Linked DNA regions of Homo sapiens: region 1 is linked to region 2. A link means that fine-mapping ties the variant in region 2 to the expression of a gene that starts in the linked region. Tissue or cell type: whole blood. Region 2 holds a variant in brackets; the other region holds the start of a gene. All regions are shown on one strand. Distances are between the middles of the regions.

What was found. PIP is the estimated chance that this variant, and not a neighbour inherited with it, causes the effect.
Region 1: it holds the start of DNAJC4, and the variant in region 2 is fine-mapped to the expression of DNAJC4 in whole blood (TOPMed, PIP above 0.99).

The regions. Positions count from the first base shown.
Region 1 is chr11:64,227,118-64,235,117 of GRCh38, forward strand. It overlaps DNAJC4 (DnaJ heat shock protein family (Hsp40) member C4), which reads left to right and starts at 3,431. Exons shown (of 6, transcript NM_005528.4): 1 at 3,431-3,823; 2 at 4,754-4,847; 3 at 5,313-5,497; 4 at 5,587-5,748; 5 at 6,777-6,863; 6 at 6,956-7,164. The coding sequence starts at 3,738. The coding sequence ends at 7,067. NUDT22 (nudix hydrolase 22) reads left to right here. Exons shown (of 6, transcript NM_032344.4): 2 at 1-15; 3 at 451-549; 4 at 2,130-2,227; 5 at 2,361-2,454; 6 at 2,733-2,899. The coding sequence ends at 2,873. VEGFB (vascular endothelial growth factor B) reads left to right here and starts at 7,467. Exons shown (of 7, transcript NM_003377.5): 1 at 7,467-7,776. The coding sequence starts at 7,717. LOC124902687 (a long non-coding RNA gene) reads right to left here and starts at 4,253. Exons shown (of 2, transcript XR_007062713.1): 1 at 4,051-4,253; 2 at 2,029-2,920. RefSeq lists an enhancer at 1-335 and silencers at 3,772-3,831, 7,015-7,504, 7,725-8,000.
Region 2 is chr11:64,117,853-64,125,852 of GRCh38, forward strand. All of the region lies in intron 3 of MACROD1 (mono-ADP ribosylhydrolase 1), which reads right to left. FLRT1 (fibronectin leucine rich transmembrane protein 1) reads left to right here. Exons shown (of 3, transcript NM_013280.5): 3 at 1-1,319. The coding sequence ends at 440. Among named protein-coding and RNA genes, the nearest start is that of MACROD1, 44 kb to the right of the region's middle. RefSeq lists an enhancer at 4,035-4,966. The variant G/A (reference allele first, on the strand shown) is at 3,057.

The DNA.
Region 1 (8,000 bases), 110 kb after region 2:
CACCCTGAGCCTCAGGTGAGATTCCAGGCTGGGCACAAAGACCCAGACAGCTCAAGGGAGCTGCAGCTCTCCACCCTCCCAATCCTCCCAGCTTTGGTTTCCTCATTCCTTAAAGGGAAAATTGGCCTGGTATTTCTCTGGAAGTTTGCTCAGGGCAGTCCACCTGCCTCCCCACTGACCCCTGCCCCAGTCCTGTGAGAAACTAGAAAACACGGGAGGAAAGATTGGGCACAGGAAGAAGATGCCCTACTCCACCCCTGCCCCCTGTGTATCTCCTTTGAAGCTGGACCTCTGGTTGTCTGTCAGGGAAAGGACACCAGACTCAGGATCACTAACTCTCTTACACTGTGCCACATCAGACCCTCAAGGCCAGCAGGTATAGGCTTGCTGGTCCTGAGATGGGGCAGGGGGAAGAGGTGGGGAGCAGGGGCTGAGCCTGACCTCTCACAGGCCCTGTGCCCTGGTGGCAGCCCCCAGCACCAGGACCTCGCTGGGCAGCTGGTGGTACATGAACTCTTTTCCAGTGTCCTTCAGGAGATCTGTGATGAGGTGAGTGAGGTTGACCTGGACAGGGTGGTAGACATGAAGGGAGGGGGTAGGACTTGCCAGAATTCTACAGGTCTGGGCTGGCAGGAGGCCTGCAGGCATCTGGCCAGCAATGAGGGAAGAAGTTGGCTTTGCAGCTATACATACTTGGAGTGGAATTCTAGCCCTCAGTACCCTCTGCCTTGGATTCTTCTTCTTTTCTTTTTTCTTTCTTTTTTTTTTTTTAGACAGAGTCTCGCTCTGTTGCCCAGGCTGGAATGCAGTGGCACGATCTCTGCTCACTGCAAGCTCCACCTCCCGGGTTCACGCCATTCTCCTACCTCAGCCTCCTGAGTAGCTGGGACTACAGGCATCCGCCACCATGCCTGGCTAATTTTTTTTGTATTTTTAGTAGAGATGGGGTTTCACCTTGTTAGCCAGGATGGTCTTGATCTCCTGACCTCGTGATCTGCCTGCCTCAGCCTCCAAAAGTGCTGGGATTACAGGTGTGAGCCACTGCACCAGGCCGGATTCTTCTTCTTTTTTTTTTTTTTCTTTTTGAGACAGAGTCTTGCTCTGTTGCCCAGGCTAGTGCAGTGGTGGCATATCGGCTCACTGCAACCTTCGCCTCCTGGGTTCAAGTGATTCTCATGCCTTGCCCCGCCAAGGATTCTTCTTTTCAATGGAAACAATGATAAATATCTTGCCTACTCCCCAAGTCTGTTGAAAAAGGAGTAAGTGGCCGGGCGCCGTGGCTCATGCCTGTAATCCCAGCACTTTGGGAGGCTGAGGTGGGCAGATCACAAGGTCAGGAGATCAAGACCATCCTGGCTAACACGGTGAAACCCTGACTTTACTAAAAATACCAAAAGTTAGCCGGGCGTGGTGGCGGGCACCTGTAGTCCCAGCTACTCAGGAGGCTGAGGCAGGAGAATGGCGTGAACCCGGGAGGCGGAGGTTGCAGTGAGCCGAAATCGCGCCACTGCACTTCAGCCTGGGCGACAAAGCGAGACTCCGTCTCAAAAAAAAGAAAAAGGAGTAAGTGTGGCAGGGTGTGGTGGCTCACACCTGTAATCCCAGCACTTTGGGAGGCCAAGGCCAGCGGATCACCTGAGGTCAGGAGTTCGAGACCAGCCTGGCCAACATGGAGAAACCCCATCTCTACTAAAAATACAAAAAATTAGCCAGGCGTTGTGGCGTGCACCTGTAATCCCAGCTACTCAGGAGGCTGAGGCAGGAGAATCACTTTAACCTGGGAGGCAGAGGTTGCAGTGAGCTGAGATCGTGCCACTGTACTCCAGCCTGGGCGACAGAGCGAGACTCCATCTCAAAAAAAGAAAAAAAGAAAAAGGAGTAAGTGGGAGTCCCAGTCACTAAATTGACTTCTCTTGGGTGACCTTGGGCAACGTGTTCAATCTCTCTGGTTTTGGTGTACCTGTAAAACAAACATGCCCATCATCTGACATTCTGTAATGCTGGGTCCTTGATCTACAAGCTATAAAATGCTGTACACAGGTAACAGGCGGTTTTTCATTGAGACGGGCAGGGATGTGGGCAGTGGCATTGATAGGTGGGACCTCCCCCCACCCCACCCTCCACCGCAGGTGAACCTGCCGCTGCTCACCCTGAGCCAGCCCCTGCTGTTGGGCATCGCCCGAAATGAGACCAGTGCTGGCCGAGCCAGTGCCGAGTTCTATGTCCAGTGAGTAGGCTCGGGTACATGATCCTGGGTCTTGGGAAGGTGGGTGGTGAGGAGTGGGCTGAGGCAGCTGTGGCTCCACAGGTACCCCGCAGGGGCTGGTCACCCACTAAGCCACCCTTGTGTTCTTGTCCAGGTGCAGCCTGACTTCTGAGCAGGTGAGGAAGCACTACCTGAGTGGGGGACCCGAGGCCCACGAGTCTACAGGAATCTTCTTTGTGGAGACACAGGTGCAGAGTGACAAACCATCTTGCTTGGAGGCCAGGGCTGGGGCCTGCAGAGGCCTGGCAATGCATATCTTGTAGGGGAGGTGTTGGCTGGGTCACAATTCCCTCCAGAGTCACAAGATTTGCCCTCAGTGCAAGGGAAAGGTCCAGGGACATGTTCAGCCCCTTAACATGCCTCCCTAAGGACAGTGCAGAGGTCTCTGAGGCTCAGGAATTCTGGGCACAGCCCTGGCAGGAGAAGTGGCAAGCTTGAATGCCTGGGTCTCGTTGTCTCCCCACAGAACGTGCAGAGATTGCTCGAGACGGAGATGTGGGCTGAACTCTGCCCCTCGGCCAAAGGCGCCATCATCCTCTACAACCGGGTTCAGGGAAGTCCCACTGGAGCGGCCCTAGGGTCCCCAGCCCTACTCCCGCCGCTCTGAAAATAATAAACGACTTTATTCTTGGATTCCGTTGGCATCTGCTATTTCTGTAACAGAGAGGAGCAATGGGCCCTGAGTGTGTAAGGCAGGACAAGTGACTTGGGAAAAAAAAAAAAAAAAACCCGCCCAGCCTGTGTCCCCCTCTGCAAGCAGGGGATAAGAACTGTGCCTCCCTTTCTTTGCTGGCTCCAGAGAGGCTCCGGGGCGGAAGCAGCTCCGTAAGATATACCTCGCTGCAGAGGGGAGCAACAGCGGAACGGAGACACGGTGGCCGGGCCGAAAACGTCACAAAGCCGCAGAGAGCGGGCTCTGTCCCGCCCGCTCCCCAGGTGGGCGCCCGCGCCTGTCCAGCGAGTCCGCAGGCTGGGGGACCGGAGGCACCAAAGGCCAATAGACATGTAGGGGCGGGGTCTCCACCGATTTTTTTTTTTTTCCTGACAGGTGGACGTGGTCTTGGCATCCACGCCAATGAGAATGTGAGGGCGGGGCCTGAATAGACGCAGGAAATGGCGACGGCCGCGGGTCTGTGAGCAGCGGGGGCGGGGCCTGGTTGTGGCCCCTCCTTCTCCCGTCCCCAAGTTCCCTGGGTGGGAACGGGGTCTTGGGGTCCCTGGCTGGGTGGCCAGACCCCGAAGCCAGCGCTGGGAAGGGCTGCGGATGCCCGGGTCAGAGGAAGGGGCAGGTCCAAGGACACGCGGGTCTGGTCCTGGGCAAGAACCGCCCCCTCTCCGGGCCTGCTTCAGTCTTCCTTTGCAGAACAACGGGCCAGGCCCCTTCCCTCTGCCCCCGGGTGCTTGAAGTCTAGCCCCATCCTGGTCCAATGCGCTCTTGGTAGCCTCCTTTCCCAGCTGCCCGCCCGCCGCCATGCCGCCCTTACTGCCCCTGCGCCTGTGCCGGCTGTGGCCCCGCAACCCTCCCTCCCGGCTCCTCGGAGCGGCCGCCGGGCAGCGGTGAGTTGGGCGCGGGGGGCCGGCCCGGTTGTTCAATGGGTTTCTGTTTGCCCTACGTGCTGAGTTAGTTGTGGTCTCTACTCCGTGTCAGGAGGCTCCCAGGTTTGTCTCAGGTAACCCTCGCCTTCCCTGCTGAGGATCAGAGATAGAGAAGACCCCCAAGGTCATACACCGATTTAAGCGGCAGAGGAGGAAGTTTGAGTCCAGGTCAAACCCAACGCTCTTACCACAGCTCTAGTGGTTTCCAAGCATCGCTGTATCACTGTGCATAACCCTCTGTGGGGGGTGGGAGATGGGGAGGTGTCGGGTACAAAATCCAGATTCCTGGGCTCTGCTCTGGAGATTCTGAACTGGAGGAATCAATTGGGTGGGGGTCAGGAATCAGTTTCTTTCTCTTTTTCCTTTTTTTTTTTTTTTTTTGAGATGGAGTTTCGCTCGTTGCCCAGGCTGGAGTGCAATGGAGCAATCTCGGCTCACCACAACCTCCGCCTCCCGGGTTCAAGCGATTCTCCTGCCTCAGCCTCCCGAGTAGCTGGGATTACGGGCATGCACCACCACGCCCGGCTAATTTTGTATTTTTAGGAGAGACAGGGTTTCTCCATGTTAGTCAGGCTGGTCTTGAACTCCCGACCTCAGGTGATCCGCCCTCCTCGGCCTCCCAAAATGCTGGATTACAGGCGTGAGCCACCGCGCCTGTCCAGGAATCAGTTTTTTCCAACAAGTTTTTGGACTCCACTTTGAGAAATCCTGACCTGCACTATGCCTGAAACACTCCAAAGGGGGTGCTGATCTGGAGACAGATCTGTCCTGGGACCTGTTTCAGCCCTGTCAGCTCCTGGTGGCTGAGTTGAAGGGTGTGGCCCAGAAGGCAGGGCAGAGCTAGCTTCTGGGTTCCTTCAGCCCCTGCAAGGTTTGGGACTCTGTCCACAGGTCCAGACCCAGTACTTATTATGAACTGTTGGGGGTGCATCCTGGTGCCAGCACTGAGGAAGTTAAACGAGCTTTCTTCTCCAAGTCCAAAGAGGTACCCGTACCCCTGAGGTGGGGAGGGGGAGCAGGAACTTTGAGCCAGTGGGGGTGTGCTTCAAATTCCCAGGAGTAGACCAGCATCTCTGGCGGGTGCCACATTTTTTCAGCCCTCATAGGGAGTGGCAGGTGCTCAATGGTAGGGGAAAGGCTGTGGGCAGGAGCCAGGGGTCCTGTCTGATGGGCTGGGCTTGGTTTTCTTGACCTGCCTGCCTGCTCTTGAGAAACCTGGACCAGGGCATATGGTGAATGCAGGGGGCTGGCAGGTGGGGAGGGCTTGAACACAGGAGGAAGCAGGAGTCCATGCTCTCTGGCCTTCTGAGGAGTGGGCAGGCCTGAGTGAGGGTCACTGACCAGGCAGGGCCTCTGGGTATGACTGGAGCCCTGGTGGGTGGATGTCATCAGCATGGGTCCTGGGGAGGGACAGGCAAAGGGAGATAAGGGGAGTCCTGCCCCACCCCAGCTGCACCCAGACCGGGACCCTGGGAACCCAAGCCTGCACAGCCGCTTTGTGGAGCTGAGCGAGGCATACCGTGTGCTCAGCCGTGAGCAGAGCCGCCGCAGCTATGATGACCAGCTCCGCTCAGGTAGTCCCCCAAAGTCTCCACGAACCACAGTCCATGACAAGTCTGCCCACCAAACACACAGGTACAGTAATCCTGCCCTCAGCTTGCCCCACCCCCAGGTCTCTTGGGTAGTCTCATTTCCACAATGTCCCTTCCTCTGCCTCCCAGCAGCTCCTGGACACCCCCCAACGCACAGTACTGGTCCCAGTTTCACAGCGTGAGGCCACAGGGGCCCCAGTTGAGGCAGCAGCAACACAAACAAAACAAACAAGTGCTGGGGTACTGCCTCCTCCTCATGCTGGCGGGCATGGGCCTGCACTACATTGCCTTCAGGTGATGCCTGTTCTCCCCGGGGTGATGGGCAGAGGGCAGGAGGGTGGGTGAATTCCAGTGTGGTCAGCCAGTCCTCCACAGCACCTCGTGGCCCGTACTCTTGTGTCTCTCAAGCTAAGAGCTGCTTGAAGTTGGTCTCTGGAGCCTCTCCTTACTTATTAAAGGCAGCGCTGCACCAAGAGCTAACGTTGTCATTTACAGTTTTTCATATTTCGAATGTAAATCTTTCATGCTGGCTGCCAGGAAGGGATTGAGCCAAACAAAATCAAGCACAAGCAGCAAATGCAGCACAGCTCATTCATTTGGCAGTAGGCATCTCCCTGCCACTCTCACGCGTGCCACGGAGCTGATTCTCTTTATTCTCTTTTTTTCTTTTTTTTTTCTTTGAGATGGAGTCTCACTCTGTTGCCCAGGCTGCAGTGCAGTGGCGCAATCTCGGCTCACTGCAACCCCACCTCTGCCTCCCAGGTTCAAGCAATTCTTCTGTCTCAGCCTCCCGAGTAGCTGGGACTACAGGCGTCCACCACCACACCCGGCTAGTTGTTTTGTATTTTTAGTAGAGATGGGGTTTCACCATATTGGCCAGGCTGGTCTCAAACTCCTGACCTCAGGTGATCCACCCGCCTCAGCCTCCCAAAGTACTGGGATTACAGGTGAGAGCTACCGCGCCTGGCCACAAAGCCGATTTTCTATAGCAGATACCTAAAGGCCAGTGCCCACTGCTAGCAGCCTGCCTAGTTCAGTGATGGAGTTAGACGCATACCCTTTCTAGTCTTCTGGGAGGAGCACCCCCATGTCCACAGCTGCTGTCACACCTCAAAGTGACCAGGGACTTCGGATGCCATTGGACCCTAGACAAGCCAGGGCCACTCTGAGCCCTCCCTATCTATCACAGGAAGGGTTAGACTGAGGTTCCTAACCCTGTGTAAGGGTAAAAAGCTGTGAGGCCCCTAGAGTGGGGTGGAAGGGGGCAGGACTTCAGGGACAGCAGGAATTGGATTCCCAGGGTTAATTGTGACCCATTGCAGGAAGGTGAAGCAGATGCACCTTAACTTCATGGATGAAAAGGATCGGATCATCACAGCCTTCTACAACGAAGCCCGGGCACGGGCCAGGTCTGTCCCTGCTCTATTCTGCTCCCTGCTCCCTGTCCAGGAACCACACTTCGGGATCCCTATCCCAACCACCCAGGTGCCCTCTCCTCCAGGGCCAACAGAGGCATCCTTCAGCAGGAGCGACAACGGCTAGGGCAGCGGCAGCCGCCACCATCCGAGCCAACCCAAGGCCCCGAGATCGTGCCCCGGGGCGCCGGCCCCTGAGGGGCTCACCTGGATGGGGCCTGCAGTGCGTTCCCGCTTTGCTTCCTTCCCTGGACGGCCCGCTCCCCGAAACGCGCGCAATAAAGTGATTCGCAGAGCTCGTGTCCGGCTCCCTCCTTAAGGCCCGACGCCCCCGGCCCCGGCCTCGCCAAGGGGCAGCGCCCCGCCCTCCGGGTAGTGGCGGCGGCGACTGGGGAGCCCAGCCTCCTGGGCGGTGCGTCCCCTTTCCCCTGCCGCGGCGGGAGGCGGGAGGGGGTGTGTGGAGGAGGCGGGCCCCGCCGACGGCCTCGCCCCCCCACCCCGCCGCCCCGCCCCCGCCCCACGGGCCGGTGGGGAGCGCGTGTCTGGGTCACATGAGCCGCCTGCCCGCCAGCCCGGGCCCAGCCCCCCGCCGCCCCCGCCGTCCCCGCCGCCGCTGCCCGCCGCCACCGGCCGCCCGCCCGCCCGGCTCCTCCGGCCGCCTCCGCTGCGCTGCGCTGCGCTGCCTGCACCCAGGGCTCGGGAGGGGGCCGCGGAGGAGTCGCCCCCCGCGCCCGGCCCCCGCCCGCCGCGCCCGGGCCCGCGCCATGGGGCTCTGGCTGTCGCCGCCCCCCGCGCCGCCGGGCTAGGGCGATGCGGGCGCCCCCGGCGGGCGGCCCCGGCGGGCACCATGAGCCCTCTGCTCCGCCGCCTGCTGCTCGCCGCACTCCTGCAGCTGGCCCCCGCCCAGGTACGTGCGGCCCGACAGCGCGCCCGCCCGCCCGCCGTGCCCTCTCTCAAGGTTGGCGGAAGTGAGGAGGCGACCCGCGGCCTCGGCCGAGGGGATCTGCGGGGTCCGGCCTTGGACGCGGGCGTCTCGGGGGCCCGGCGCGTGCATCCCCTGGGAGGTGCCCCTCCCCGCTGGCCCGCCAGCCCCAGTCTGGGGCCACTCCTCCGCCCCACCCCGTCCCCTGG
Region 2 (8,000 bases):
CAGCCGACAGCTATGGCCCTACCACCACACTCAACCAGGAGCAGAACGCTGGCCCCATGGCGAGCCTGCCCCTGGCGGGCATCATCGGCGGGGCAGTGGCTCTGGTCTTCCTCTTCCTGGTCCTGGGGGCCATCTGCTGGTACGTGCACCAGGCTGGCGAGCTGCTGACCCGGGAGAGGGCCTACAACCGGGGCAGCAGGAAAAAGGATGACTATATGGAGTCAGGGACCAAGAAGGATAACTCCATCCTGGAAATCCGCGGCCCTGGGCTGCAGATGCTGCCCATCAACCCGTACCGCGCCAAAGAAGAGTACGTGGTCCACACTATCTTCCCCTCCAACGGCAGCAGCCTCTGCAAGGCCACACACACCATTGGCTACGGCACCACGCGGGGCTACCGGGACGGCGGCATCCCCGACATAGACTACTCCTACACATGATGCCCGCCCACCCGGGCTGCCCCGCCTCAGCCCCAGCTGCCCTGGCGTGGCCATGTGGCTTTGCCCAGCCTGCTGCAATCCAAGAGAGCAAGGAAGAGAAATTCCATGGGTGACTTTCCTCCGCAGAAAGCAAAGTTTGGGGAGGGCTGACGATTTTGTAGAACACAACAGTGACAATTTTTTTTAAAAGAATAGAAGGCAGGAGGGGGAATTCGACATTGTTGAAGACATAATTTATACCAAGTTATGCCAGTTGGGGAGGGAAGGACTAAAAATAATATTGCAGGCAGGGCTGGGTTGGGTTTTTTTTTTTTCCCCCCTGAACTGGAAGGATACTACCTGTACAACATCTGTGGACACCTCATGCTCTGTTCAAGGCCATCACAAAGGAACCGCCAGGGAGAAGCAGCCGGCTCTCAAAGCTCCCACGCAGCTCTCCCGCCACTGGCCACTCGCTGGCGACCCGATGGAAGGTTTTCAGGCTCCTCACAAAGGAGAGAGGGAAGAAAAGATCTTTTGCCCTGGAGATATGGTCCTGAAATCTCTCCCCTGGCTTATTCCATACCATTTCCCTTGCAGATTTGCAGAAACATGGCATCTTTCACTGCATTCTTTGAACAATCATGTAGTCGATTAAAAAAAAAAAACAAACTTTTTTTTCCTAGGCTGAAGCCCTCTTCAGTTCCATGCACCACGCTCCGTAGAAGCCCCGGCGGAAGCCGTAGCTTTCCCTGCCACCTGGAGGTGCATCTGTCTGCCTGTCTATCCCTGTCGCGGTGTCTCTAAGTACAGATGGGTAGATAGAGCCACATGCACGGTCCTTACCGTTCTTCTTGGGTCAGTTCTTACCATTTCCTGAACAATAGAATTGTGAAAGTGTTGCTTTCTCCTAGAAATCCTTGAGTAAGTAGACCGTGTGTTGGGGATGGGAGTGAGGTGGGGGAGGAGACTTGGTCTCCAGGGGCTGCTGCTGTTCCTAAAGGCTGAGGTGTGTATGTCTCAGACGGGTGGCTTAGGGAGGCGTCGCAGCTGGGGCTGCCAGTCCCATCCTGGCTCAGCTTGGCCAGCACTGGGCTGCTCTCCTTTCTGATACAGATAAAAGCTTTATTTGATTCCAGTGTCCTCGTCTCCCTCCCCCACCACGTGCAATCACCTTAACAGCTACTTTCTGAGCATTTACCATGTGCTGAATGTTCCCTCCTAGGACGGGTAATTAGCGCAGGGATTTTTTTTTTAAATATCAGCTGATTAGACCTATTGGTTTCCATGGCTGCTCAAACAAAGCCCAGAAAAAGACACAAAAATTCTCGAAAAAGCCCTGGGTGATGGCAGTCCCTCCCTGAATGTAGAAAACTCAGCTGGGCCCACCCCTGGGACTCTGTTTCTTGAGAGGGAGAGACCAGATCTCTTTCTAAAAATGCCAGCCTCCGAAAGGGCCCTGACTGGGACCCTCAGAAGAGTTAAGATTTTATTTCCTCCCTCTGGAATCCATGTCGCTATCATGCATTTATCAACTGACAGTGCAGTGTGGTGAGCCATGAGATTAAAACGATGATGAAATAATGACAGCGAATTGGAGAGGGAGGAAGAGCGGAGCCTGGGGTTCCGACGTGCCTGCGTCCCAGTACTCAGGGAGCCCGGGTCACCATCTGTCACTGTGCCGCTTGTTCTGCGCCAAGGAAAAGGAACGTCAAAGAGGAGATGCTGGTCCGAGGGCAGGAGGATGAGAGGGCTGGGAGCGCCTGGTGGTGCTATTTTCAAACGGCCTCCACCACCGTGCGAAAAGCAAAGGCAGAAGCAGCAGCGGGGCAGGGGTTACGTTAAAAGGCCCGACCGCCACCTTCAGTGAGGAGATGGGGCTGAAAGGAGCGGACACAACAGCCACGTGGAAAGTGGAAAAATGGGCACAGGCTCCCAGCACGGCCTGGGGGGGCTAGCCCACGAAATAGGTCCACTCCCCAGCCCTGGGGAACAGCCGAGCAGCGTGGTCACGTTTCACTCGAAACTAGACGTGTTTTTCCTTTTCCTGCCTGAATCATTTTCTCACACAATAAGGTCAAGAGAGAAATTTCCCCAGGCCTTAATGTCAGGTCTGTATAAAAGGCAGCCCCAGGCCGGGTGCAGTGGCTCACGCCTGTAATCCCAGCACTTTGGGAGACTGAGGCAGGCAGATTTTCTGAGGTCAGGAGTTTGAGACCAGCCTGGCCAACATGGTGAAAGTCCGTCTCTCTAAAAATGCAAAAATTAGCCAGGCATGGTGGCAGGCGCCTGTTACCTGGCTACTCGGGAGGCTGAGGCAGGAGAATCGCTTGAACCAGGGAGGCAGAGGCTGCAGTGAACCGAGATTGCGCCACTGCATTCCAGCCTGGGCAAAGAGTGAGACTCCATCTCAAAAAAAAAAAAGTAGGCCCTCCCAGTGGACCATGGCCCCCCAGCCCCGAGATGAGCAGAAGGGCCCACCTGGGATGTCTGGGAGGAGAGCGTGCCCGAGGTGTGCCACGTTGGCACAGGGGACAGAAGTCCCAGGTCTCTGCTGATTCTAAAATGAGACCACCCCTCCCTGAAGGGCACCACTCTGATCACTGCCTTCCCCCAAGTCCCGCCCATCTGCAACAC[G/A]GTGCTGCCAGCACACTGTCCCCACCTCACCTAGGTCCCCCTGTCTCCTCTCCCCACCCTAGACAGGTCAGGTCATGCCCTTAGTGGCTAGGAAGGCATCTGGGGACAGCAGGTGGCCCGGACCGTGAGAGCTGCCTGGGAAGGTCCTGCTTGGCTGGGGCAGGAGTGCGGGAGACTTAGTGCTAGAGAGCAGGCAGAGCTGGGAGCCAGCCTGTGCCCAGCCACGCCCTCCGAGACAAGGCCTGAGTGATGAGCTTTCCTCCCCTCCCATTGCACAGAGCAGGCCCAGGCAGGCAGGAGCCCTGGCAGCTGCCCCAGAGGAGCTCCTTGGGCCCCAGGACCACGCGAGTCTCCTGTTCCTGGTTCTTGCACTAACTGGGCGAGGGCGGGGCTCGGCCCCTCTTACCAGACCCTGCCTGCCTCATCGTGGGGATCACCCACCCACTGGCGCTCTAAGTGTGGAGGAAGGTAGATGCTCCACCCAGTCAGGGCCCTGGGACCCAGCTCTAGAGCTGACTTTCTCATCTTTTCTGCCCCTTAGCTATCCTGACACCTTCCCAGGGTCCTTTCTGGGCTTTCCCAGAGGAAGCCCCCAAATATCTGCTGTGTCACAGCCCCTCAGCCAGGGAGGGGCCAGAAGCTAGGTCCGTTCTGAAACCCCATCCCCTCTTGGCCCAGCTCCTCCCAGCTGGTCTCATACCACAAGATAGGAGATGTTTCAGGACACCCAGCCTCCCCTACACCTCAGACATGCGTGAGGACACAAGGCCTGGGATGCCAACCCCAGCCTGTCTAAATTCTCCCGGGCTCCCGTGCACAGCTGACATTTCCAAGGGAACGTCCGCGGCTGGGCTGACCCTCACAGCCTCTAAGTAGCCAGAATAACCTCAGCGGCCCCAGCACTGATGAGTACGTTTTGTGGCATTTAAGGCAGGTTTAAAGTTAAAGATAAAAAAAGCCCATGACGCTTCTTTGGTTAAGTGGTTTACCCTTCGTGGTAATTAGATGTAGTGATTGGAATCTCTTTTCTATTACATGGCAATTTTCCTTTAAATCTCCCCTAAAAAAAAAAAAGGAAAGGAAAGAAAAGGCAAGGAAGGAGAGAGAGAAGGCACCAGCAGGCCGGGAATCATTTGCATTTTGCGAATGAGGCCTCTTGTAAGCTCAGCTCAGGCGTGGGGCCCAATGTATGGAATGCTTAAGAGATTACTAAAAATAAAATCTATTAATTAGTCATACTCAATTCCACAGACATGATGTGCATCAAAAGCTCCTTTTCTTCCCTTTTCTCCTTCCCCCTCCCCACGGCCTCCCGCCACAGCCTCCATCTTCTCTAAATAGGCTGGGGCTTGCTCCACGCTAACATGGTGCATGCGGCGGCCAGGGGCCTCCCTGACACAGGGCCAGGATGCAGGTCCGGAGCCAAGAGCAGGGGCATTGCACCTTCCTGGCTCTGGGTGACGCTGGCAGGGGAGGGGACAGCACCTGGGAAGATGGCAGCAGCTAGGAGGGGCCCAACCTGACTCTCCCAAAGCCCAAAGCCCACACCTGCCGTGTGCCTCTTCTCCCTCCCTCTACACAGGCACCGGGTCTCCTCCTTCCCCTGGGGATCTGGGAAACCCTCCCTCTGAGCCCAGCCCAGCCCTGTCCGAACAAAGCCAGGCAGAGAGCTGAGGAGGGGGTCGGGGAGATGTTTCCAGAGCGGTGCAGGGAAAGAGGGTTTGGTGAGAATACAGCCTCTGTTTCCCCTTCTGTAAAGTGGGGGTGTGCTAGGGAGGGGTCCAGCGTCACTCAGGAAACTGGTGCTCCAGAGGCCAAGTGGGGGCCCTTCCCCGCTGCTGGTGCTGAAAGGTTCTAGCTGGCCCAAGTCAGGTGAGGGATCCCTGAAGGGTTGGAGGGGCTGGTCAGGGCCTGAGCAGAGGACAGGCTGGGACCCAAGGCTGCCTCGGAACCTGTGCCTCCCTCCTTCACCTCCGGCCCTGGAGCCAAGGAGCCAGGAGAGGAGGAGAAAGAGCAGACCCTCCCCCTTGAAAATGGCAGCTCAAGTCCCAAAGCCAGCCCACTTCAGAAACCTGCTTCCTGCTGAACGTGCCAGAGAGGAGGCTGGGGCTTCTGAGCCTTGCACTTATGAAAAATACAACAAGGAGAACTGGATGCAGCAAAGAGGGAGCAAAGGGGCGGGGAGGGCAACGGGGAGAGCAGGGGCAGTGCTGGCAGGAGGGGCCGGGCGCAGGGACCTGTGCCCCCAAGGGCCAGACCCTGCTCTCAGGGCCAGGACGCAGCCAGGGTCAGTGACGGGCGTCCGCGTGCCTCCTCATACTCGATTGGCACAGGTGACGGTGGCTGCTGCCTGCCCCTGGATGGGCGCCAGGGCAAGCACTCACAGGCGATTCGCAGCCGTGCATTGGCCTTCCGAGTGCAGAGAGGAGGCATTTTTTTTTCTTAAGGAGGGATAAAAAGGCTCAAAAATGCAAATCGTTACCGTTTACAACCAAGCAAGTCTGCTAAATTGATTAGGAGAGATTAAACTCCTTGGAGGTGCAGGGAAAGGGGGATTTTTCGTGGTTTATGAACCTGCCCCAAGTGGCTATCTGCATAGCAGGGACTTTCTGGGCCTCGATGGGTGGGGTGGGGGGGTTGGGGGTGCAAGATGGGGGCACCTGCCCTGGCTTGGCTCCCTGGGGAGCCAGGGTCTCTGAAGACAACACCAAATGGACCAGAGCACTCAGGCTTGAGGCTCCAGCACTGCCCTAGGGAAAGGGACTCAGGCCTCTGGGACAAGTGGCCCATCCAGTCCTTAGAAAGTAGGACTCTAGAGCCGTGGGCTTTTCTGCTTCCTTTCTGTTCTGGGTGGGTCTGTCTCCAATCCACTCCTTGTGGCCAGTAAAAGGGGAGTGGGTAAAGGGAAAACTGAAGGTCAGGGAAGAGAAACTCTAGCCCAGCAAAGGAAACAGGCAGTGAGCTCTCCGTCACTGGGAGCATTCAAGCACTAGATGGGGACGTGGCAGATATTTTCCTCCCAAGGTCTGGTGCTTTGACTAGAAGATCCTGGTTCCCACCCTTGCTTTCTCATCCCCCAGGACACTGAAAGGGAGCAGATATCAAGAGAAGTTCACCATGTTGTTTAAAGTCACTGGTGTCCCCTGAAAACCCCAAGTCAGGGCAGTCCTGAAGCCAGACCATCCTGCCCCACCAAAGAGCCACTTGTGCCAGCAGAGAGGCTGCAAAATACCCATCCTCAGTGTCCAAGAGGCACCAAGAAAGTACAGATACATGCCACCCCCTTTCCAGAGTCTAAACTCAGCACCTATGGCTCGCCAGAGGGGCTGACAGAGAGCGCCTCCCAGGCCCTGCAGCTCCGAAGCCCAGGCTGCGTCCTGGACCTGTCTCTTAAGCCAGGGCTGCCCCACGTGCAGTCCAACACGCTCATGCTGCTGCTGCTGCCACTGTATCTATCCATCCATCCATCACCGCCGGTGGATGGCGCCTGGGGCACTTTTCACTCTGTGGTTTTAAGCATTTACTGTTTCTTTTGAAATGTTCCAAGTAGGTGCCTGAAATACCCATATTTGCTTCTTTTTAAAAAACTCACAGAAAGATTCTTTTTGCTCTCCATCCCCTCCCTTTGCTCTTCCCCCTCCCTCGGCATTTTTAATCTGTGGGTTTTCCCTGGTTTTGGAAATTCCAAAAGTGGGGGTCAGGCCCCCTTTCTCACCATAACAGATTTGCGGGTGTGCCTGGAGACCCCCAAAGCCACAGAGCAAAGCCTGGTCTTTTTCTTTTTTTTTTTAGACAGAGTTTTGCTCTTGTTGCCCAGGCTGGAGTGCAATGGTGCAATCTCGGCTCACCGCAACCCCTGCCTCCCGGGTTCAAGTGATTCTCCTGCCTCAGCCTCCTGAGTAGCTGGGATTACAGGCGTGTGCCACCATGCCTGGCTAATTTTGCATTTTAAGTAGAGACAGGGTTTCTCCATGTTGCTCAGACTGGTATTGAACTCCCAGCCTCAGGTGATCCGCCCACCTTGGCCTCCCAAAGTGCTGGGATTACAGGCATGAGCCACCGTGCCCGGCCAAAGCCTCGTCTTTTCTCCACGTCTCCCCCGGAGACCCCTGCCTGGGACAGCTCCTGCTTCTGGTACCTGCTGGAGACCCTGGCCAGGGCCTGGCTCTTTGAGACCACTGTCACTGTCCCCTCCCGCCCCTTGTCACTGAAATGCCCGGCCTGTGCCAGGAGAGAGTGAGGGTGTGCTGAGGGCATAGGGCAACCTGTGGGTGGGATGACTGCCCCCACGTCCTAACAAAGCCAGCCCCCAAAGCACTGTGGCCATCTGAGTGGGCACAGTGCCCTGGCCCCCCTGCCTCCCCACACCTGAAAGCCCAAAGCCTAAGACCAGAGAGTCCTCAAAGGAAGGTCTTTGCTGCCACAGCCCTAAATCTCATCAAGGTAGATAGTCAGAGTCAGCACCTTGCCCTTCCCAGGGTCACTGGGGCCCAGCACAGTGCCTGGCACACAGGGGTACTCAATCCTTTCTCTGCCACCAACGGAACGAGGCCGCCTCCTCCTCTCACTTCCTCCCCAGTTGCCATCTGCCCACTCATTGAGGATGGCCCAGGCACGAGTGTTGGCAACAAACAGGCTTCTCTCGTCCTGCTCCTGCCCCGCCAGCAGCTGGCACAGAGAGGGGCTCATCTCAGCAGCTTTACCTCTTGGAAGCACCTCGCTCCACCCTGCCTTGGATCCACGTGTTGCCAGCTGTGAGCCAGATGGAGAAATGTAGCCACTCTGAGAGATCCGGTGGCTGCCCCAACCTGTGTCAGTAACTCAGTTTCCCTTCTCCAAGACTTGCCTTGAGTGGATGACAAGGGGGAGAGAACTGGGGGAGGGCCCCACAGAGGCGCTGCAAGAAATCCAGATCCCAGGCGACACCTGCTGCCTTGCCTGCTG